7 linked regions of the Homo sapiens genome follow. The protein of the gene in region 1 purifies or fractionates together with the protein of each later gene. This does not show direct contact. Each region holds a gene or a part of one and is shown in the gene's direction. Other genes may lie near its edges.

Evidence for each region.
Region 2: the proteins of ATXN7L1 (region 1) and ZBTB10 purify together in Homo sapiens (affinity purification with mass spectrometry; one large-scale study listed by BioGRID and IntAct). This does not show direct contact.
Region 3: the proteins of ATXN7L1 (region 1) and TARBP1 purify together in Homo sapiens (affinity purification with mass spectrometry; one large-scale study listed by BioGRID and IntAct). This does not show direct contact.
Region 4: the proteins of ATXN7L1 (region 1) and LONRF2 purify together in Homo sapiens (affinity purification with mass spectrometry; one large-scale study listed by BioGRID and IntAct). This does not show direct contact.
Region 5: the proteins of ATXN7L1 (region 1) and DHX40 purify together in Homo sapiens (affinity purification with mass spectrometry; one large-scale study listed by BioGRID and IntAct). This does not show direct contact.
Region 6: the proteins of ATXN7L1 (region 1) and GNPAT purify together in Homo sapiens (affinity purification with mass spectrometry; one large-scale study listed by BioGRID and IntAct). This does not show direct contact.
Region 7: the proteins of ATXN7L1 (region 1) and LANCL2 purify together in Homo sapiens (affinity purification with mass spectrometry; one large-scale study listed by BioGRID and IntAct). This does not show direct contact.

What each region holds. Positions count from the first base shown.
Region 1 is NC_000007.14:105,604,272-105,607,599, reverse strand, and holds the end of ATXN7L1 (ataxin-7-like protein 1), read left to right. Parts: 3' UTR 1-2,828; downstream 2,829-3,328.
Region 2 is NC_000008.11:80,524,226-80,526,765, forward strand, and holds the end of ZBTB10 (zinc finger and BTB domain-containing protein 10), read left to right. Parts: 3' UTR 1-2,040; downstream 2,041-2,540. UniProt on the Homo sapiens protein: May be involved in transcriptional regulation.
Region 3 is NC_000001.11:234,430,680-234,434,179, reverse strand, and holds part of TARBP1 (tRNA (guanosine(18)-2'-O)-methyltransferase TARBP1), read left to right. Parts: intron 1-608; coding exon 609-770; intron 771-3,500.
Region 4 is NC_000002.12:100,271,375-100,274,438, reverse strand, and holds the end of LONRF2 (LON peptidase N-terminal domain and RING finger protein 2), read left to right. Parts: 3' UTR 1-2,564; downstream 2,565-3,064.
Region 5 is NC_000017.11:59,603,610-59,606,227, forward strand, and holds part of DHX40 (probable ATP-dependent RNA helicase DHX40), read left to right. Parts: intron 1-1,505; coding exon 1,506-1,575; intron 1,576-1,836; coding exon 1,837-2,065; intron 2,066-2,618. UniProt on the Homo sapiens protein: Probable ATP-dependent RNA helicase.
Region 6 is NC_000001.11:231,258,212-231,261,711, forward strand, and holds part of GNPAT (dihydroxyacetone phosphate acyltransferase), read left to right. Parts: intron 1-2,295; coding exon 2,296-2,472; intron 2,473-3,500. UniProt on the Homo sapiens protein: Dihydroxyacetonephosphate acyltransferase catalyzing the first step in the biosynthesis of plasmalogens, a subset of phospholipids that differ from other glycerolipids by having an alkyl chain attached through a vinyl ether linkage at the sn-1 position of the glycerol backbone, and which unique physical properties have an impact on various aspects of cell signaling and membrane biology.
Region 7 is NC_000007.14:55,399,837-55,403,336, forward strand, and holds part of LANCL2 (lanC-like protein 2), read left to right. Parts: intron 1-120; coding exon 121-268; intron 269-1,337; coding exon 1,338-1,484; intron 1,485-3,500. UniProt on the Homo sapiens protein: Necessary for abscisic acid (ABA) binding on the cell membrane and activation of the ABA signaling pathway in granulocytes.

The sequences.
Region 1 (3,328 bases):
GTTTTTACATTCTTCCAAATTTGGGGTCACTCCCCTAGCTCCTGATGCTGCTACTGTACCATCCTTTTGCTCCAGCCATGAGAGCAGACATTGCAGAATGTTGGTTCCAGGTTGGCATGCTCTGAAGCTCTTGAACTGTAGCACAGGCAGAGCCCTTTTTCTTCCTGTCATCTCCACCCGATTCCTTCCATCCCTACGTCTACCACTCTCTGGGTCCTCACTGGTCTTCAAAGGACCTGGCTCTCATAGGATCCCCTCAGGATTGTGTGCAGGGAGAGGGGGCTTTGCTGGGGAGGAGCTGGGAGTGGAGAGTTGGAGGGTGGGTGGGGTTCCCTCATCCAGTTTCCACAGCCCACCATGGCTGGAGCCAAATGCTAGAAGCGAGATTGAGAACAGTGGCCGTTTAGTGATGTGGTTTACCTAATACCACTGTCCAGCTGTGCAGCTCAGAAAGGATAAACCAGTCAGGGACAGGGGCCAGAACAGGTTTGGGAAGGTGGCAGCAAGCAGAGCATGGTGGGTAGGAGATGATCCCTAAAAAAACTGGAGACTGTGGTGGTCTGAGCTGGTCAGGAATCTGCAGAATCCCTTCCAGGAATCAGTGTGCCAGTGCCCACAGCAGGGTGAGCTAGGAGGGAGAAATCCCAGGAAAAAGGTCGTGAGAACCCAGAAAGCCACTCCATGAGGAGGCACGGTGACCACAGCTGCTAAAGGTTCTTAGGCTGCCTTCCTGGGCTAGGAAGAGCCCCCCAGGGAGAGCTTCCACAAAAGGGTATGTGTCAAACCTTTTGTCAGAATAAATAATAGCATTTCCCACCCACCCCCATGCCCTGGGCCACAGGGACTTGGTGGGATCAGCACACCCATGGATCAGCTTTTGCTGTCTTAGAGACAGCCATCCCCATGAAGGAATGGTAAGGACAGCCACTGCTCAGTGAAGAACAGCCATTTGGAAGAGCCACGCTGGAGCCCTGCAGCCATAGAACTATTCACACTGGAGTTTTAAAAGAAACAGCAATACCATAAGCTCTAGTAGGGAATCATAATCAGGAAAGGAATTCACAACATAAAATAGGTGTTCTGTGCTATTAATCATGTAACTTTGTATATGATGTATAGCAAAGATACTGGGAGGTTTTGTTTCATCCTTAAATCAGAAATGAATGCTAGTTTCATAGCTGGGCAGAACCCTCATCCCCACCCCAAAGTTTTCCTTTTCTTTCCCGTTCCCCCAACCCAAAGATCAGACTACTGTTAAGTTTCACCACACAATTGGAATTGCAAAGACGGGAGGCAAATGGAGTGATTTTCATCAATGGAATTGCACTGACAGTGAGTGTTTCTTATAGGATTACTAAATTTTTTAATATAAAATGATTTGTTTAAAAATCAGGAGTTGATATTAAGTACCAGGACATTAGTTCGGATGATTTCATTTTTATTTCTACAGTGTTAAAAGTGCACTTATATGCTGGTTTATTTACGTCTTGGGAAAAGAGACTGCAAATTGAAGGGATGATTGTTACTTTTTCTTTTTTTAAAAAAAAAAGGTTAAGGAGATTTTAAGACTTATAAATGTTTAAGAAATTATAAACAAGGTTAGACCCTTTGAAAAAAAGTTTAGAAGATATTCTTAAAGTAAATTTTTATAGTGTTAATTTTGTAATAATTTATGTTTTACTATATTACAGAGCTAACTGACCAGAATAGTTTCAGAAACAATATGAAACTTAGGAAAGTTTAAGCAATGTTTATATTTTTAAAATGTTCTTTGAATTATGTTTTTATTGTACATTTCTTCAGACTGAAAAGTATGTACATATCTTTGTTATTTTTGCACAATTTTGTCTTGTTCGGTTTCAGAGGTCTGTTGTTTTTTATAATTTATTTTGAGTTGTAAAACTTGCAGGAGTAAAAACAAAAAACAAAATCTCCACAACAAAATAACCCTCTGATTTATAAACTCTTATAGTCAAAGAGGGAAAACAAAGGTTGAGAGATTAAGTGGCTGCTTCTGAGAAATAATGTCTCAAGGACTAAAGGAGCAATTCAATAGGTTTAGACATTGTAGCTCTCTACATCTTGAATTGGAAGCTGGAATAAAGAGCCCCCACCCCCCCCCCCACCCTCATCGAATGCTGCTTACTTTGTCAAAAGACTGGCTATGACCAAGGTGAGGATATTTCTGGAAAACTGGGCAAAAAGGGAAAGCCCACAGTATTCTTCCTTGGCAGTCAACCACAGGTTTACTTTACAATGATGTATTAAAAACTTGCAGCTTGAAAAATGGAATGCAAATAAAAGGTTCTCTTTGGGTTTGTCTTAATGGAGTTAAACTGGAGCAGCCTATAAAACATTTTTAGGGTGATGTCCTCTGGGTCCTTCTGTTCTGCACACCCACTCAGTCTTCTCTCCCAGCCCCTTGACTGCACACACCCCTCTTTGCCTGAAGATCTCCTGACTTGTCGCCAGCCATAGAGGCTCGAAAGCTCTGGTTGTGAAGCATAACGCAATGCATAGACCTGTCAGCCATAAAAAAAAAAAAAAAAAAAAAAAAGCGACTTGGATAACTTGTATGCCTTCTTTTGTATCAATGTACCAATTGTAAATAATGCTGATCAACCTTTGTAGAGAATAGTTTATACAGCATATTCTATTATTGCTGATTCTCAGTGAACTCTTGTTTTAAAAAAGGAAAAAAAGAAATTTTCTATTTACACCTTATATTTTGTTATGCTGTCGGCCCATGGCACTTTAACAAAACTCTGTGGGTTTTACGTAGCTGGTCAGTCATGGGGTATATTAAATAACTGTTGTTGCACAGACAAGAATTTGCACCTGCTCATTTGTCCTTTCCTACTACCAATTTTAGAACCTTTTCCAGAAAAATTTTGAAGAAAGCATGTCCGATCATTCTAAACAAATGCCACACTTGTGGAGTGGGTTTCTTTTCTACAATCCATATTTTGTAACACTAAGTATTTTCCTTCTTCGTCCCGCACCTCTATGTATTAGCACTATCAGATAGAGTTCATTCCATGCCTGTGATATTGTAAGCAGAATAAATGTCTAAAGTAGGTGTAAATAGTAAATTCTATGGCTTACAGTTTTAAAAGGAAAGAACAAACATGTATCTATTGATACTGCCATGGTTCCTCACCAGGCCTGGAAATATTCTCCAGTAAGCAATTGTATTTTTTTTTTTTTTTTGCTTTTTTTTTTTTTGTAACATGGCTTTGTAAATAAAATAATTTATATGTTTGTAAAACAAAGTCTTCGGGTTTTCATAAAATTTAAATTTTTGGTATTTCTTTTTTTTTTTTTTTTT
Region 2 (2,540 bases), on another chromosome or scaffold:
AGGGTTTTTTGTTTATTTGTATGTTTTTATATGAAAGTACATAAATGACAGACTACCTCCAAGTAATCCTGCTTTAATTAATAGCAGTGATTTGTAATCAGTGTATCTTTTAAGATTCTCTACAGGTTTTAGAAAATATTAAAAATTCCCTGTAATTTACATTTGTGCATAATCTTGGAAATGGGTTGAAAAGCAAAGGTAAACTGCTTCATCCCATGTTGTATATTTGTGGACTGATTGACTACAAGTGATGTGATGTTATAAATTTGAAGTCTTTGAAACTTTATTAATGTAGAGAAAACATAACTAGCTTTTTAGGTTATTTCAAAGTTAGTAATAGAGCAAAGGAAATCAGAACTGGCCAGATATTCAGACTTGACTTAGAAAAACAGGAGTTTGTTGATTTTGTTTGGAGAAGGGCACAATAAAGGGGAGCCCACATAGCATTATAATGCCTAGTATCTTTAAACATGTAAAGAGCTATCATGAGGCAGAAGAATTAAGAAACTTTATATGTTTCTAAGGGGTCATGATTGGGACCATTGGCTCAAGATTGAAAATCGGTTTTTAATTATCCAAAGATGAAATGGGGCTGCTTCAGAAAAAGGTCTACCACTGGAGATAACGCTATGAAAAGTGAAAGAGATTACTTAATCATTTTGACAAAGGCAGTATTGACCAGACATTTCTATTTCAGAGTTGGATTTGTGCTTAGTTTTTTTTAGGTGTTGGGACCCTTGTAGTTGCTTTTTATTTTGCTTAGTCAACAAACACTAAAATGATAAAATTTGGTATGTATAAGTACTGGACGAAGGATGTTTTGACACTAAAAAGGACATAATTTAGGAAATTAAGAATTTAGACACCAAGTTTGGCTTAATAGAAAAAGTCACTATCTGAACTTCTTTCTTTTTCACCACAAATCACCGCAGACCAGTGTTTGGGAGCAGGTGTAGGAAATTGAATTATTGGATCTATGTTTAGGTAAGAAAACTAAAGGTACTTCAGAATTTAGGCTATGACATAACTGTCTTTCTGAAGTTTAAAGAAAGAAAGTGAACTATAGAAATCTATTCAGCTAATTAAAGTGAATGAAAAATATTACAGATTCCATAACTGCATGGCGCCTTACCTGCTATTAATACTGCCGCCTTACTGTCAGCCAGATGATTTTTTCCCACCACGGCCAGTCTTAAATTTGGCAATAAGAAAAAGCTAATCTTCCAAGTGTAAGTAGGTATGTGTTAGAATCTTGGTGAAAGATAAACACAAGACAGTCTTCTTGGCGCAGGTCCTAACAGTTGGTGAGATAATACATAAGATGGTTTCAGGATTATTGTAGAATTATTTAGGTTGAAAGAGACTGTAAGAGACTAATGAAGCATACCCAGAGAGGTTGCTACAGTGACTCCAGTCAGTTTTAGGACCCAGGACTCCTGAACTTCAATTTCAGTATTATTTTTCTGTACCAAACTCATTCAATAAATACTTGAGATTAGGGATAAGTTTGAAGTTAGAAGATTCCAGAGTACACTCAAATAGTATTTGGCACATAGCTTGTTGATCAAAAGTATTTACTAAGTGAGTGACAAAAGGCACTAGCAACTTTAAGGATTTTGCCTATTAGTATCATATGGCATGTAGCTATCAAGCCAGTTTCGTTTAGTTATTTTGTGTTGCCAAGCATATGATACGTGGTGTCACACTGAGCCTTTGGGATCCTTTCCCTGGATACATAACCCTAGTAGATAATGTTACTGCAAGATGTAATGACCAAATCCAACCTACTGCAAATGTTACTATGGAAATCTCAATGCAAAAGTAGCCTTTGTGATTTTTTTTTTAAACCGTCTCCATAACAGAACACTTAGAATTATTAGCCATTTGCTGCAAAGTATTTGTTTTAAAATGTCTGGCATATACACCACTAACATTTAAATGCCCAACATTCGGTCTATACGTGAAAAAACTAGAAGAAAAGCCCTGTTGGAGTTTTGATGTAGAGTGCAATAATACATCAATAAAGGTATTTTAAAATGACCTAATGTTTTAGTTGCCAACATGATTTTTGTATTTGTAAAGAGGTATGTTGGGTTTTGGCATTTATATTTTACCGTATGAAAGACATATTCATGTAAAAGGTAATGTGAAGCTTAGCATCTCTTGTCAACCTGTCCCCTGTTTCCAAGTAGTCTCCTTGGATATTTGTAGCATCTGGATTCCTAATAATCCAGATAATTAGGATTATGGCATTTATGTACAGACATGGGTAATTCTCCAAAGCAGATCTTCCCACACTAATTTTTCAAGTACTTGTCACCTAAATCATTAATAAAATGTGCCAATTCCAAATAATAGCAAATGTAGGAATTGAATCAGCATCCCAGAGTACTAGTCCTGGGCCATATCCTCATTAGGCAAAGGAAATTTGAAGAAGTTATTTTAGGACTTTACCTAAGGTGAAGTCTAGAATTTTACATATGTAGGTATGTTTTTGTTAGTCTTATATTTGCCTAAAAGTTATACGTTTTATTATTTCA
Region 3 (3,500 bases), on another chromosome or scaffold:
TTCACAATTGAGTCATCCATCTCCCCACCTGAATTATGAGATCTTAACACAATAAGGCTTAGTAGTGAAGAGTTAAATAACTTGTCCTATGTCACAGGGCTGGTGCATGGTAGAGCTGAACCCATTTTTTTCTGGGTTTATGAGTCAAAAAATGTGCATTTAAGTTGTTTAACCTCTCTGAAACTTAGTTGTCTTATGAAAGTGGGACAGTGATCTTTTTTGTGAGAAGTGATTTTTGTAAACAGTGGAAGTAGTCATTGCTATAACCATTATCATTATTATTTATGATGTACTAGCCCTAGGGACATAAGAATTGGTAGATGGTAATTTCTGCCATCTAAGGTCTCCCTCATAGGTAGGGAGACAGATGACTCAACTGTGAAATGCACCATAATTGTGCTGAATGCACAGTCACTGTGTAAGCACAGAGAAGGAAGTCCTTAGCTCTGCGTGGGAGGTTATGGAAGGCTGCTTGGAGAAAAGAACTTATTTTCTCATCAGTGTCTTGTTGTGGTCCTTTAAGTAAACTTCTCCTGCCTGAAGGCTTGTAGTTTTGTGAAAATCATGGACCTTGCTTGTACCCTTAAGTGTTTTAATCCTTGTCTTAGGTTTCAGATCTGGATCGTTGCCATTTATACCTGATGGTGTTAACTGAGCTTATAAATCTGCATTTGAAGGTTGGGTGGAAAAGGGGTAACCCTATCTGGAGAGTTATTTCTCTTTTGAAAAATGCATCCATTCAGCATCTTCAAGAGATGGACAGTGGACAGGTAAGCCTCTTTGATTCAAGGTTTGTAGTTATCTTGAATAAGGCATACAGGGAATACATATTCAGTTCTTATACACTATTTTGATACCATACAAAGCGTTAACTAAAATTCAGTTTTAAAATATACCCTCTAGTGATAAGATGTAGTTAAGATTGATACTTTTTGTTTTTTGGAGATGGAGTCTGGCTCTGTCACCCAGGCTGGGGTGCAGTGGTACCATCTTGGCTCACTGCAACCTCCACCTCCTGGGTTCAAGTGATTCTCCTGCCTCAGCCTCCTGAGTAGCTGGGATTACAGGTGTGTGCCACCATGGCTGGCTAATTTTTCTATTTTTTAGTGGAGACGGGTTTTACCATGTTAACCAGGCTAGTCTCGAACTCCTGACCTCGTGATCCGCCTGCCTTGGCCTCCCAAAGTGCTGGGATTACAGGTGATACTCTTAATATAATATTAAACATATAAGAGGCATCATCTTAAAATCATTTAGATATAGACATTTCACCTGTACTAGGTCTTTTGCCCAAACGTGTCCAGTAAAGGACATTTTATAGTCTGACATCATTGCCCTCCATGCTTGGCTTCCTACCTCATTTTTCAGCCTAGCTGTCCACTGTCTAATGCCTTTCCCCCTCCTTCCCACAGTGCCGTGACGTTGCAGCCACTCTAGGCTACTTAGAGTTTTACAAATCACAAGCATGTGTCCTATCTTCCTCATGGAGGCTGTCATTCAGTCTGGTCCCTCCGTGGAGAATGAGTGCCCTCTCCTCCAGCATACACTTGGCAGCATCTGGTCTCCCCTTTTATGGACCAACTGGAATCTCTTTTCTCTTAGAGGTCTTCTTCGATTAGTATCTCACTCTCTTTCATCTTCCTGTTGCTCTTTATGCCTCACTTGTAGTGTGTATTTCCATCTTTCTTGTTTTTGGAGTAATGTATGCATATATATCTTTTCCTATATATATATATTTTTGAACAGAGTCTCGCTCTGTCACCCAGACCGAGTGCAGTGGCGTGATCTTGGCTCACTGCAGTCTCAGCCTCCTGGGTTCAAGCAGTTCTCCTATCTCAACCTCCCGAGTAGCTGGGACTACAGGCGTGTGCCACCATGCCCGGCTAATTTTTGTATTTTTAGTAGAGTTGGGGTTTTGCCATGTTGGCCAGGGTGGTCTCGAACTCTTGACTTCAAGCAATTTGCCTGCCTCAGCCTCCTGAAGTTCTGGGATTGTAGGTGTGAGCCACCGTGCCTGGCCTCAAGGCTTTTTTTTTTTTTTTTTGGAGACGGAGTTTCGCTCTTTTGCCAAGTCTGGAATGCAGTTGTGCAGTTGGCTCACTGCAACCTTGGCCCCCCAGGTTCAAGCGATTCTCCTGCCTCAGCCTCCTGAGTAGCTGGGATTGTAGGTGCCCGCCACCATGCCTGGCTAATTTTTGTGTGTTTAGTAGAGATGGAGTTTCACCATGTTGGCCAGGCTGGTTTCGAACTCCTGACCTAGGTGATCCACCCACCTCGGCCTCCCAAAGTGCTGGGATTACAGGCGTGAGCCACCACGCCTGGCCAAGGCATTTCTTAAACATGGCACAATAAGGCTTAGTAATGAAGAGCACAGGCTTTGGAGTTAGAGTTGCTGGGTTTGAATTCTGGCTTTATTTTTGCTGTGTGACCTACATTATTTAACCCCTCTGTGTCTCATTTACTGCACCTGCAAAATGGGGATTATAGAGTTGATGTGGGAATTAAAGAAAGCTCATTCATGTTAAGTCTTTAGAACTGTACCTGGCAGATAGACAGTCCTCAATAAAAGTTAGCCATTTTCACTTAACATGTGGTAAGTGTTTAATAAGTTGAACTCAATCAGTGTAACTAATCCAGGCTACTAAGAAAAACAAAGAAGATACTCGATTGCTTTAATAATTTAATTCTAGGAGGAAATGATAAAGACGATGATTAATATTTCAGCATCCTGTCTAGTACCTATTAGTCTGTTAGTGTTATGAAAGAACATTGTGAGTTCTAAATATACAACCAAACCATGAACCATGCCACAGTAACTCTTATTCTTAAAAATCGGCTTCCTTTAGTAATTCACTGAATTACATTAAGGTTAGCAGGGACGATAGTTGGCTCAAAGGTAACACTAAATTCTATTTCATATGTTGGCAGTGTTGATATGTAAAATTTTTCTGTAGAGATGGTTGATTTATTTTTGGAGAGTGAAAGAGGGGTATGGAATAAGTAGAAATTTCCTTTCTGATACAGACATTACTGGTTGGCAGTATTTGAGGGAACTGCTGTAATCTCTCAGTGCTGTTGTTTTCTGTGTCTGACTTCTTGCCTGCACTCCTAGCTTGGTGAGAGATTGTCGATTTTCTCTTTAAGTATAGACCAGGTTGTCTTGGCTACCCTCCTTTCCTACGTGTAGAGTTCCAAGTGTTTTACATGCAGTAACCCATTTGCTTAATCTTCACAATAACCCCGTGAAGTAGATTCTGTTACTGTCCCCATTTTACAGATGAGAAAACTAAGGTGTAGTATGTCTACACTCATACTGGTAGTAGCACAGAGCTAGGATTCAGACCTGGGCTTTGTGGTTCCTGAGTCCAGCTCTTAACTGCTGGACTACGTGACTTCTCCAAAAGTAGCGTGCAGCTGATAGAAGGAATTATTTGTAACCTGGAGCCTTTTATTTTTTTTTTTAACATGTTTCAGCAGACAGTTAAAATAAGGCTCACCCA
Region 4 (3,064 bases), on another chromosome or scaffold:
AGCATTTCAGGTTACAGCTTCTAGAAGAGGTTTGTAGTCTCAAATGAGTAGGTTTTTCCTCTAGAGAGGGGCGGGCCTGGACCTTCAAGCACCCCTTGGTGTGTTTAGGAGCTCAGGAGCAGAAGCACCTGCCTGCAGCCCTGCAGCTAAGGAAGTTCTCTCAGTCACTCAGAGCAGGGAGGGGCTGAGAGAGTCATGTGAGGCTCCCGGGGTACTACGACAGCCCTCGAGGTGAAGGATTGGCCCTGATCATAATAGAGAACCCTGAGGAAGTTTACTGTCATGAGTCTCGGCTGGTTGGCGCATGTGACCTTTGAAGGATGAAGATGGAGTTTGCAACATGAGTATCTCTAACCTTTTGCTTTTCAGGGATCATTTTCAAAAATTGCATTGGGGCCTTCGTTATTTACCATAGTATTTTCACTTTCATAGTTTTGTCACCTTTTTGTACTGTGAACAGTTCAACCAGTGACCGACTTCTCTCTCATGCTGTTTACCCCACACACAATTTCCCACTCAATTCTGAAAATAAGAACCTGTTAATAGGTTGGAAAGCTGTGTACTCTATTCATATATTGTTCTTTCATGCTAGTGGAGAGTGGTGTCATTAGCATCTTAATTTTAGAGTTGTGAAATGATTTTACCAATTAGGAATTGAATGTGTATTTTTTTTCTGTTTAATAAGAAGAGCAAATTTGAATAAATAAGCTGGTGTAGATAAACTTAATAATCATGCTTTTTCTTGTTTGGAGATAGGTGATGTGTTGTCATATCCTGTGATACAGGTCACTCATCTGGCCTTCTGTTTCTGAAGTTTAAGTCTGGTTTGAATATGTAATAATACTACTCAGCATTTCTTGTTGCCTAAGTGAGACGAAACTTAAATGTTATGATATTTACTTCATGTATTCTTGTACTGTTCATTTCAATTAATTGGTATTGTATATCTAATATGTGATATTTGAACTGAATAAAACTTACAGTGTTGTAAATGTTCTTTAATAAATAATCACACCTAAGTAATAGGCTAGACTGATGAGAAATTAGATCAAATCAGTGCCTAGGCCTTTGTGTTTGTGTCGTAGGGATGTACTAACACATCACCACAGACTGACGGCTTTTCACAATAAATCAGTTTTCTTCGCTCACATTTCTGGACATTAGAAATCCAAAGCCAAGGTGCCAGTAGGGCCGGGCTTTCTCTGAAGGCCCCAGGAAAACTCCTCCTTCATCTCCTCCAGCTGGTGTGGCTGCTGGCCGACCTCGGCCTTCCTCGGCCAGCGGCTGCATCACTCCAGTTTCCGTGTCCATCGTCACATGGCCTTCTTCCCTCTGTGTGTCTGTGTCCAGATATCCCTTTCCTTATATAAGGACACCAGTCATTAGATTTAACTTCCACCCTAATCCAGGATGACCTCATCTTAACTTGATTACATCTGCAAAGACTGTATTTCCAAATAAGGTTATATCCACAGGTTCTAGTGGACATGAATTTTAGAGGAACAGTATTCAACACAGTGCAGATGTGGAACGATTCCAATTTAATTTTAGTAGGAAAAAAAAGGAAAGAGGGCTGCCAATGGCTTTGGCTTAAAACCATAATTACTTTTAAAAATCATTTCTATCCAAGGCAGATAAGATTTAATAAGAACTGAAGCTTGTATAGTTGTTTATTTGGGAGGAAGGGGGTAGTGCTTCTTAAGAAAAGGAATATGAATTGCAAATACTGAGTTAACTATGAAAGCATATATTTATTTGGAATTTTTAGAGGCATAAATTACAATATTTAAAACAGCATAACACTCTACAAAATACTGAAAAGTATTTTTATTAACTTCCTGGCACCTTTATGATACCTTTCCCATCTTTTTTTTTCTTTTTTTTAACCTACATACTCTGGTTAGTTTGTTTGTTTATTTATTTATTTATTTTCTTCTTGGGGGACATGGTCTTGCTGTGTCATCCAGGCTGGAGGGCAGTGGTACAAGCATAGCTCACTGCAGCCTCAACCTCTTGGGTTCAAAGGATTGTCCTGCCTCAACCTTCTGAGTAGCTGGGACCACAGGTGCATGCCGCTATACCCGGCTAATTTTTTTACTTTCTATGGAGACGAGGTCTAGCTGTGTTGCCCAAGCTGGTCTCAAATTCCTGGGCTCAAGCAGTTCTCCCACCTTGGCCTCCCAAAGTGTGAGATTGCAGGCATAAGCCACTGCACCTAACCCTGCATACTCTTTGATCATCTTTTTCTTCTTAGGACAATCTTGTGTTGGTTACTAAAGAGAGAATGATATTTAAGTTCTTCCTCTAACATGGATATGGGGCAAAAATCATAGACTAAAAGTTTCAGTTTTCACAAGTCATTATTGGTAATGTCATTTAAATAGGATGGTTGTCAAATCTGGGAAAACCTCTGATGAAGTCTTTTATATGTGAGTTGTAAGGATCAGGCATTTTCCCGCTTCCTCATGCAGTGACTAATCTTAACTCCTTCAGCACTGTTGGATGAAACTTTCTGTGATGACGGACATTGTTGGAAATAAAGCTCGGAGTCATAAGGAAAATGAGTACTTAGACATGCTCTGTATTTGTGCTGTACAGTATGGTAGCCACCAGCCACATGTCACTTTTGAGCACTGACGATGTGGTTAGTGTGGCTGAGAAACTAAATTTTTTATTTAATTTGATTTTAACATTTGGCTTTTCCTCCAGAAAGCTGCCCCCTCCCGGCCCCGTGGCCCACCTCTGTGTCCCCAGCTGGGCCTCCCTCCAGGCCCAGTGACTGTGTCCACTGACTGGGGCCTGAGCCAGTGGATTTGGTGAAAACTAACCAAGGTTTATTATAAACAAAACTGTCCACCTCACTCACCCACCTGAATATGCTTGGAATGACTATTGAATCAATATGTTTAAAAATGAACAGGCGTATGCTTCTGGACAGGTTCCTCTTTATGTTCTTGAGATCTTTTCCTTCCTTTCCACATGAAGTCAGGTGTTTCAGTCAGGATGGGCTACATGATGCTGTGGTAAGAAGCATCCCCCACATCTCAGTGCTCTCCGTGGCAAA
Region 5 (2,618 bases), on another chromosome or scaffold:
GCACTTAATAAAATGTGAAATCGTGTCTATCGTGGTATAAATAAATGAGTAAAAGTTTATTGAGAAATGGAATTGTTTACAAGCACCTCTCCATAAAATTTTTGTTAATTACAAAAGCAAAAAGTAACTTTACAGTGGAGAATCCTGGCATATGTGACCTAAATCAAGCAATCAAAGTGAACATAATGAAATAAATAAAAATCATGTTCTTCCTGATAGGATACAATGAGAAAAACACAGCATTATGTCTGTGATATTCCTGCTAAAGATGCATAACCTGAATCTAATCATCCTGAAACAGACAAACTCAAACTGAGGGACATACCACACAGTAACTAGCCTTGACATCTTTAAAGGTGCCAAGATCATGAAAGTCAAAGACTGAGGAAGTATTCCAGAATGAAGGAGACCAAAGGGAAATGAAAAATAAAGGCAATGTATGATTCTGAATTACATCCTTTTGCTATAAAGGATATTATTAAGACAAATTGGTGAAATGTCAGTGGGGTCTGAGGATTAATTGTTAGTAATGTATCAGTGTTAATTTCCTGGTTTTGATGGTTATAGTCATGTCGGAGAATGTTCTTGATTGTTGATTGTAAGAAGTGCACAGTCGAGTATTTGAGGATGATGGGGTATTAGGTTGGCAGTTTGCTGTCAAATGATTCAGGTAAAAATTTTTTTACTCTCAACTTTTCTGTAAATTTAGATTGTTTCACACTTTTAAAAATATGGTATATCTTGGTTACCCTCTGTATGCCAAACACTGGGCAGGTACTAAAAATAGAAAAGTAGAGTAACATGAGTCCTTACATCATTCTTGATGATACCTGAGTCTAATGGAGGGTACAGATATGTAAGTGAATAATTACAGTGCAGTCTGATCTGGGTTATACTATGAATATATACAAAGTACTATAGGAAATAAATTATGACAAATGAACTAGGTTTATTTTTTTGACAAGTTTTTTGGAATGACATTTAGGTAGGGTAATGTAGAAGAAAATAAGGGCATGAATCGGAAAAATGATAGATTAATTGTCAAGTTTTAGAGTAGTGAAAAAATCATCCCTTTAAAAAGAGATGCAGCATAGTATAACATAAAGAAACCATATTTAAGTCAGAAGAACTGTTTAGGACTTGGTTTTACCATGCGTTAGCGCTGGTGATCTTGAGAAGTCTAGCTAATTTATTTGAATTTTAGTTTTGACTTTTTAATAAAGTTCCTGGCTCTCAAAGCTCATAGATTATTGTTAATATTTGTACTGATTCCTTATACCTAATTGTAGTGACTTATACCTAATTGTAGTGACTGTTTAACCTGTATAATTAATTTAAGATGAATTGGTAGAGAGCTTGTAGTGACAGTTGAATAAATGTAAACCTCTGCTTATAATGCTGTTTGTAGTAGAACATATTGTAATTGTTCATTGCTGAATGTAATGCTCCATTTACTTCATTGCTTTACTGTTGTAGTCTTTATCATTTTGTTTTTCTGTTTATAGATCTGTTGGGAGAACGTTTTGCACAATGGATGGTCGTGGAAGCCCAGTTCACATTCATCCTTCCTCAGCAGTAAGTACTTCATTTTTAATAAAGGGAAGAAATTTGTAAAGTTGTAGAAATAAGTAATATACAAATGTCTTCTACTTTTCACTTTGGAGTTAAATTTACATATATCTATATTACATAGATCTATAAGGGTATTGGTTGGCCTGTGCCTCCTGTTTGAAGAAGATAGGAATTAATTGAGAAGGATTTGGACTATTTGGTTGGTTTAATGTGGAATAGGGCAGGTTATTGAGTTACCATCATTAAAAGAAATGTTTTGTATAGCTTCATGAACAGGAAACCAAACTTGAATGGATCATTTTTCATGAGGTATTGGTTACCACCAAAGTCTACGCAAGAATTGTATGCCCAATCCGTTATGAATGGGTAAGAGACTTGTTACCCAAGTTGCATGAATTTAATGCACATGATTTGAGCAGTGTGGCCCGACGTGAAGTGAGAGAAGATGCAAGAAGGAGATGGACAAATAAGGAAAATGTAAAGCAGCTAAAGGGTGAGTAAATCATTTGTTCTACTCTTAACCACTATGCCATACTGCTTCCCAGTAGTACTTCACTATTTTTGTTTATAAAAATGTTGTGACCCACCTGGGCAATGTGGTGAGATCCCATCTCTAGCAAAATAAAAATAAAAATTAGCCAGGCATGTTGGTGTGCACCTGTAGTCCCAGTGACTTGGGAGGCTGATGCAGGAGGATCGCTTGAACCCAGGAGTTTGAGGCTGCAGTGAACTGTGATTTCACCAGTGCACTCCAGCCTGGGGGTGACAGAGTGAGACACTATCTCTAAAAAAAAAAAAGTGATGATTTATGCATTATTAACTCAGAATCCCCTTTGTTTCCAAGGGGCTTTTTCTTTCTTTCTTTCTTTTTCTTTCTTCTTTGAGACGGAGTTTTGCTCTTATTGCCCAGGCTGGAGTGTAATGGTGTGATTTTGGCTCACTGCAGCCTCTGCCTCCCGGTTCAAGCTATTCTCCTGCCTCAGCCTCCTGAGTAGCTGGATTACAGGCATGCACCACCACGCCTGGCTAAGTTTGTATATCCAAGG
Region 6 (3,500 bases), on another chromosome or scaffold:
TTCCTTCCAGACTGACCAGGAAAAAAAGCAGCCTGGAATCTGCCAACTCACCTTCTCTGTTCCTATAACCAGGTGTCTGGCTGCTCCTGGGAGAGTGGGTGAGTTATACAGATCCACATTCTGCAGCCTCAGGATCCCTTCTTCCATCTGTCCCTTTTAGTCCAGTCTCAGAGAAAAGGCGCCTGCTCTCCTGGTCACAGCTAGCCACACCCCTGTGGTCGGAAGTCATCCCGTCCAGCCTCTTCTGAGACCTTTGGCATGCATCTGCTCCCTTTCCTCTATCTTCAGCCTTTCTCTCAGGGGACTTCTTCTATTTGGTCTATAAACAGGTCCGAGGCTTTAACACCACTGAGCTGTATACTTAAAAATGGTTAAAATGGCATATTTTATGTTATGTGTATTTTAATGCAATTTTTTTTTTTTTTTTTTTTTTTTTTTGAGACAGAGTCTCGCTCTGTCGCCCCGGCTGGAGGCAGTGGCTCTATCTTGGCTCACTGCAAGCTCCGCCTCCCAGGTTTACATCATTCTCCTGCCTCAGCCTCCCGAGTAGCTGGGACTATAGTCACCCACCACCACACCCAGCTAATTTTTTTTTTTTCTATTCTTTAGTAGAGACGGGGTTTCACCGTGTTAGCCAGGATGGTCTCAATCTCCTGACCTCGTGATCCACCTGCCTCGGCCTCCCAAAGTGCTGGGATTACAGGCATGAGCCACCACGCCCAGCCAACACAATTTTTTAAAAGTGGAATGCTAATTAATAAAAACAAAAAAACAGGTCCAGGACTTTTGCATCTAGGGAGAGCATTTTTTGCTTTAATTCATATCATCCCTTTACTTCTCATTCAAACTTTCCCATTATTCTGTGGCCACTGTCTTTAGTTCCTCAGCAGTTCATTTAGTCTTCAGTCCATTCAGTATGAGTTCTCTTCTGACTATATTTATAAACTTTTTTTTTTTTTTGGCACAATCACTGTTTCAGGTAACCTGAGTAAAACAAAGGAACACAGGTAAGAGGAAAGAGTTTATCCCAGTTCCTCCCTGTTGAACTGAGCCCCCCAAAAGATAGGATATGCAGCAAGATAGAGATGGTGGTTGCACAACATTTGTGAATGTACAAAATACCACTGAATAGTTCACTTTAAAATGATTAATTTGGCCGGGTGTGGTGGCTCACGCCTGTAATCCCAGCAATTTTGGAGGCTGAGGCGGGCGGATCACCTGAGGTCGGGAGTTCAAGACCAGCCTGACCAACATGGAGAAACCCCGTCTCTCCTAAAAATACAAAATTAGCTGGGCATGGTGGCACATGCCTGTAATCCCAGCTACTCGGGAGGCTAAGGCAGGAGAATCGCTTGAACCCGGGAAGCAGAGGTTGCGGTGAGCCGAGATTGCACCATTGTACTCCAGCCTGGGCAACAAGAGCGAAACTCCGTCTCAAAAAAAAAAAAAAAAGGTTAATTTTATAGTGTGTGAATTTCACCTCAATGAAAAAAAAGGGTAAGATACTTCTTCACTACATGTAATTGGGGTGCCAACACCTGTCCTCTGAGCTTCTGAGCTCATCCTAAAGCAAAGCACTCTCCTTTGGGAAGCATAAGGATTACTTATCCTACAGACTTCATTTCAAAGTGCTTGTTTAGGGGACAATGAAAATGGGCAAATCAGGGCTTCCTCAAGGATAGAAACTGACTTGCTCATCTCCAGGCCCTTGACAGTCCCAGCACACAGCAAACATTTTATTTTCTTTACAAAAGAGCTAGAGGGCCATGTGAATAAAATAAGTTCCGTTGTGAGATTCTTTATTTCACTAATTATCCTTTGATAGCTTGGGACTTTGTGTGCCTGTGACTTGATAGATCTGATGTAGTCTGAGTCGGTAATTTCAATGTGATCTTGTATATTACCTTGTAATAGCATTGAGCCAGCTGGTGGAGCACTGCAGCAATACACTGAGAGAAGCCACTATTTGCTAGGACACTAGACCATGGGCAGCAACTTATTTTAGAGTTTGGATATAAACTTATTAACAAACCAAATGGAAAGGTGAAGTGTTTTCTTCACTCTAAAATGCTATCCTAGAAAGCCATTTTTCTTTTAATTTCTGGCCTTTAAACTTCTTTAAATAGGCTCATTTATCTACTATGACTGTGTTGGGAAGTTGTCAATTAAGAAGACACTATCTTTGAGTTATAGAAGATTAATCCATTTGGAACTAGTCATACTGGTTTGAGTAAAGCTTTCTGACTTTTCTGTTATTGTTGTTAGAAATTATTCCTGCTTTTCCTTTCCTTTTAGCTTTCCAAGGAATCCCTTCAATCTGTGGATGTCCTCCGAGAGGAAGTGAGTGAGATCTTAGATGAAATGAGTCACAAACTGCGTCTTGGAGCCATTCGGTTTTGTGCCTTCACCCTGAGCAAAGTATTTAAACAAATTTTCTCGAAGGTGTGTGTAAATGAAGAAGGTATTCAGAAAGTGAGTATTGATTATTAAAAAAATAAAGAAATAAAAGTCTCATCTTAAAATTAAACAAAAAAAAAAACAGTCTCTTTTTCAACCCCTCACAATTTAATCAACTCAAGGACAGCTCACTTGGTCAATCAAAAGCCTAGGGCCTAATCATCAGGCCTCCAGTCTAGGCAGAAGAGGATGTGCATCTCTGAAGGTTGTTTTCTGTTTTTTTGTTTCCTTTTAACTGCAGACCTACAGGCTTCAGACTAACTTAGTCAAGTAAGACTTATAGACTAACTTAATGCCAGATATTCAGTAACGTTACAAAAGAAATACAAAGAATTCCTGTATATACTTCACCTAGATTCCCTTACAGCATTTCCTTTATCCTTTTCCTAATACTCTGCTGTGTTTTTCCTATAATTAAGGGCATTATCTTATGGTACAAGTATCAAAATAAGGAAATTAACATTGAACAAATACTAGTAATACTGACCTGACTCATATTTCACCAGTTGTCCCAGTCATGTCCTGTCTAGCTAAAGAAAATCGTAGCTCATGTGTTGCGCTAGAAATCCTAGAAAGTGTTCAACTTTCTTCTGTATCCACTTCCATATTAGACTCTTTTAATCTAAAATAATTCCTTAGTATCTGTATTTGTGTTTCATGCTAATTTTTTTTTTTTTTAAAGAACAGGCTAATTATTTTGAAGTGTGAAATGGTTTGAATTTGAGTGATGTTATCTCAGTATTGGGCTCGGGTTGTGTACCTTTGCTAGGAACACCCCGGAAGCGATGCATTCTTCTCAGTGGGTCGTGTCAGCAATGCATGGTGCCTGTCGGTTTCATTACTGGAGATGTTTCACTTCCATCAGTTGGTTATCGTTATGACTGCCAGGTTTCTCTGCTGTAAAGTTATTATTTTTTCCCTTTATAATTAATGAATATCTTGTGAAAAGACTCTTTGAAAATGGCTAAATACCCTGTTTTGCATCATACTTTACCCCACTCGTTTTTGCACCCACTGATGATTTTTGCCTGAATTAATTATTA
Region 7 (3,500 bases), about 50 Mb from region 1:
AAATAATTGTTTTAAATGTAAAATAAATAATAGGTAATTCCTAAAGCAACAGGGTTAGTGTTTCAGGAAGAAGTACTTTAGACTTCCACTGGGAAAAAATTAATTTTTCTTATTGGTTAGACTTTTGCAGCTCCAGAGATCGGTTGTCTGCCAAGAATCAGACCTTCCTGATGAGCTGCTTTATGGACGGGCAGGTTATCTGTATGCCTTACTGTACCTGAACACAGAGATAGGTCCAGGCACCGTGTGTGAGTCAGCTATTAAAGAGGTACTATGGGGTATGGGTAACTATGGGCGTCTCTACCATTCAAACCTATTTGCTAGCATTGAGTTGTATTAACAGCTGGACTTTACTTCTAGGTAGCATTACTTTTTTAAAGCAACTCATCAAAAGTAAGAAATAGTCCCTGCTTTTTTCTAGGAACATTAACAAAAAAAATCTGTACTCTCTTTCATCTTGTATTAATTTATCAGTTTTTACTGGAGCTAAACAGCAGCAGCTTCAGAAAGTTAGAATGTTTATTTATCTTTCGTGAGATGTCTCAGCTGGTAAGCATTTCAGGCTGGTATGAGTGGGGACCAGCTTCTTCTGTCTCATTCTGCCTTATCCTAGGGGCATACCCTTATTTGCAGGACCAAGGCTAGTTTAGCCCCTCAGCCTATGAAGGGAAAAGAGGAGGTGGAGGCAACGCAGCTTCCTTGTTAGGGACTCAGTCTCCAAGTTGCCCTCTTTACTTCTGCTCCCATCCCAGTGCCAGAACTTCATCAAGTGTCTGTGTTCAGCTGTCTCTAACTAGGGAGCCAGATGCCCAGCTAAAACTTGGAATACTTTCCCAAAAAGGATGAGAGGAGATAGACGTGAGGAAACAGTCATCCCAGACATGATATTCTGTTGATCTAACTGAAATCCTTCATGCCACAGCAGACCTCATATCATTAGCCTTTTATAAATAAAGCCAGTTCCTCCAGCCTTTCCTGATAGGTGTATGTGCTGCTCTTTTGGGAAAAATACTGCAGCTACGAAGCAACTAAGAAATCCAAAACAGTTTTATAAGAAGTTTTTCTAGATTTTTCGTTGACTTTTTATGCAAAGAATTTTTTATTTCTTAGACAGTATCTTTTCCTACTCTGACATTGGCTCCTGATTTCTTTTTGCCTGCATTTATTAATTTATAAAATAAATATAACTATATTAGCTGCTAACTGCTTAAAGACTTTTAGATTAAGGCTTCTGCCTCTCTCTCTATATATGTCATATATATATGACATACTGTTAATTAGACTACAACAGGGTACATATACAGTTTTAGATTTATGCTGTCTTGTTATCTCTGTAGGTAGTCAATGCTATTATTGAATCGGGTAAGACTTTGTCAAGGGAAGAAAGAAAAACGGAGCGCTGCCCGCTGTTGTACCAGTGGCACCGGAAGCAGTACGTTGGAGCAGCCCATGGCATGGCTGGAATTTACTATATGTTAATGCAGGTAGGTAAGAATACTCTTACACACTACAGTATATTTGATCAAACATGAAATGGGAAATGAATCCTGCATATAAACAAAGCAGTCTGGATTGAAATACCCTACTTTGAATCGCTGATGCGTAACTCTGCCACATAAACCACAGGCAGTGGATTTCTAAGAGTCCAGTGAGTTCCTGAGTACATTTGGTATGGAGTCTTTTTTTTTTTTTTTTTTTTTTTTTTCCAATTTTCTTTTTTTTTTTTTTTTGATCATTCTTGGGTGTTTCTCGCAGAGGGGGATTTGGCAGGGTCACAGGACAGTAGTGGAGGGAAGGTCAGCAGATAAGTGAACAAAGGTCTCTGGTTTTCCTAGGCAGAGGACCCTGCGGCCCTCTGCAGTGTTTGTGTCCCTGGGTACTTGAGATTAGGGAGTGGTGATGACTCTTAACGAGCATGCTGCCTTCAAGCATCTTGTTTAACAAAGCACATCTTGCACCACCCTTAATCCATTTAACCCTGAGTGGACACAGCACATGTTTCAGAGAGCACAGGGTTGGGGGTAAGGTCACAGATCAACAGGATCCCAAGGCAGAAGAATTTTTCTTAGTACAGAACAAAATGAAAAGTCTCCCATGTCTACCTCTTTCTACACAGACATGGCAACCATCCGATTTCTCAATCTTTTCCCCACCTTTCCCCCCTTTCTATTCCACAAAACCGCCATTGTCATCATGGCCCGTTCTCAATGAGCTGTTGAGTACACCTCCCAGACGGGGTGGTGGCCGGGCAGAGGGGCTCCTCACTTCCCAGTAGGGGCGGCCGGGCAGAGGCGCCCCTCACCTCCCGGACGGGGCGGCTGGCCGGGCAGAGGGGCTCCTCACTTCCCAGTAGGGGCGGCCAGGCAGAGGCGCCCCTCACCTCCCGGACGGGGCGGCTGGCCGGGCGGGGGGCTGACCCCCCCGCCTCCCTCCCGGACGGGGCGGCTGGCCGGGCGGGGGGCTGACCTCCCCGCCTCCCTCCCCGGACGGGGCGGCTGGCCGGGCAGAGGGGCTCCTTACTTCCCAGTAGGGGCGGCCAGGCAGAGGCGCCCCTCACCTCCCGGACGGGGCGGCTGGCCGGGCGGGGGGCTGACCCCACCACCTCCCTCCCGGACGGGGCGGCTGGCCGGGCAGAGGGGCTCCTCTCCTCCCAGTAGGGGCGGCCGGGCAGAGGCGCCCCCCACCTCCCGGATGGGGCGGCTTGCCGGGCGGGGGGCTGACCCCCCCACATCCTTCCCGGACGGGGCGGCTGGCCAGGCGGGGGATGACCCCCCCACCTCCCTCCCGGATGGGGCGGCTGGCTGGGCGGGGGGCTAACCCCCCCACCTCCCTTCCGGACGGGGCGGCTGGCCGGGCGGGGGGCTGACCCCCACCTCCCTCCCAGACGGGGTGGCTGCCGGGCGGAGACGCTCCTCACTTCTCAGACGGGGCGGTTGCCGGGCGGAGGGTCTCCTCACTTCTCAGACGGGGCGGCCGGGCAGAGACGCTCCTCACATCCCAGACGGGGCGGCAGGGCAGAGGCGCTCCCCACATCTCAGACGATGGGCGGCCTGGCAGAGACGCTCCTCACTTCCTAGATGGGATGGCGGCTGGGCAGAGATGCTCCTCACTTTCCAGACTGGGCAGCCAGGCAGAGAGGCTCCTCACATCCCAGACGATGGGCGGCCAGGCAGAGACGCTCCTCACTTCCCAGACGGGGTGGCGGCCGGGCAGAGGCTGCAATCTCGGCACTTTGGGGGGCCAAGGCAGGCAGCTGGGAGGTGGAGGTTGTAGCGAGCCGAGATCACGCCACTGCACTCCAGCCTGGGCACCATTGAACACTGAGTGAGTGAACGCGACTCCGTCTGCCATCCCGGCACCTCGGGAGGCCGAGGCTGGCGGATCACTCGCGGTTAGGAGCTGGAGACCAGCCTGGCCAACACAGCGAAACCCCGTCTCCACCAAAAAAATACGAAAACCAGTCAGGCATGGCGGCGCGCGCCTGCAATCGCAGGCACTCG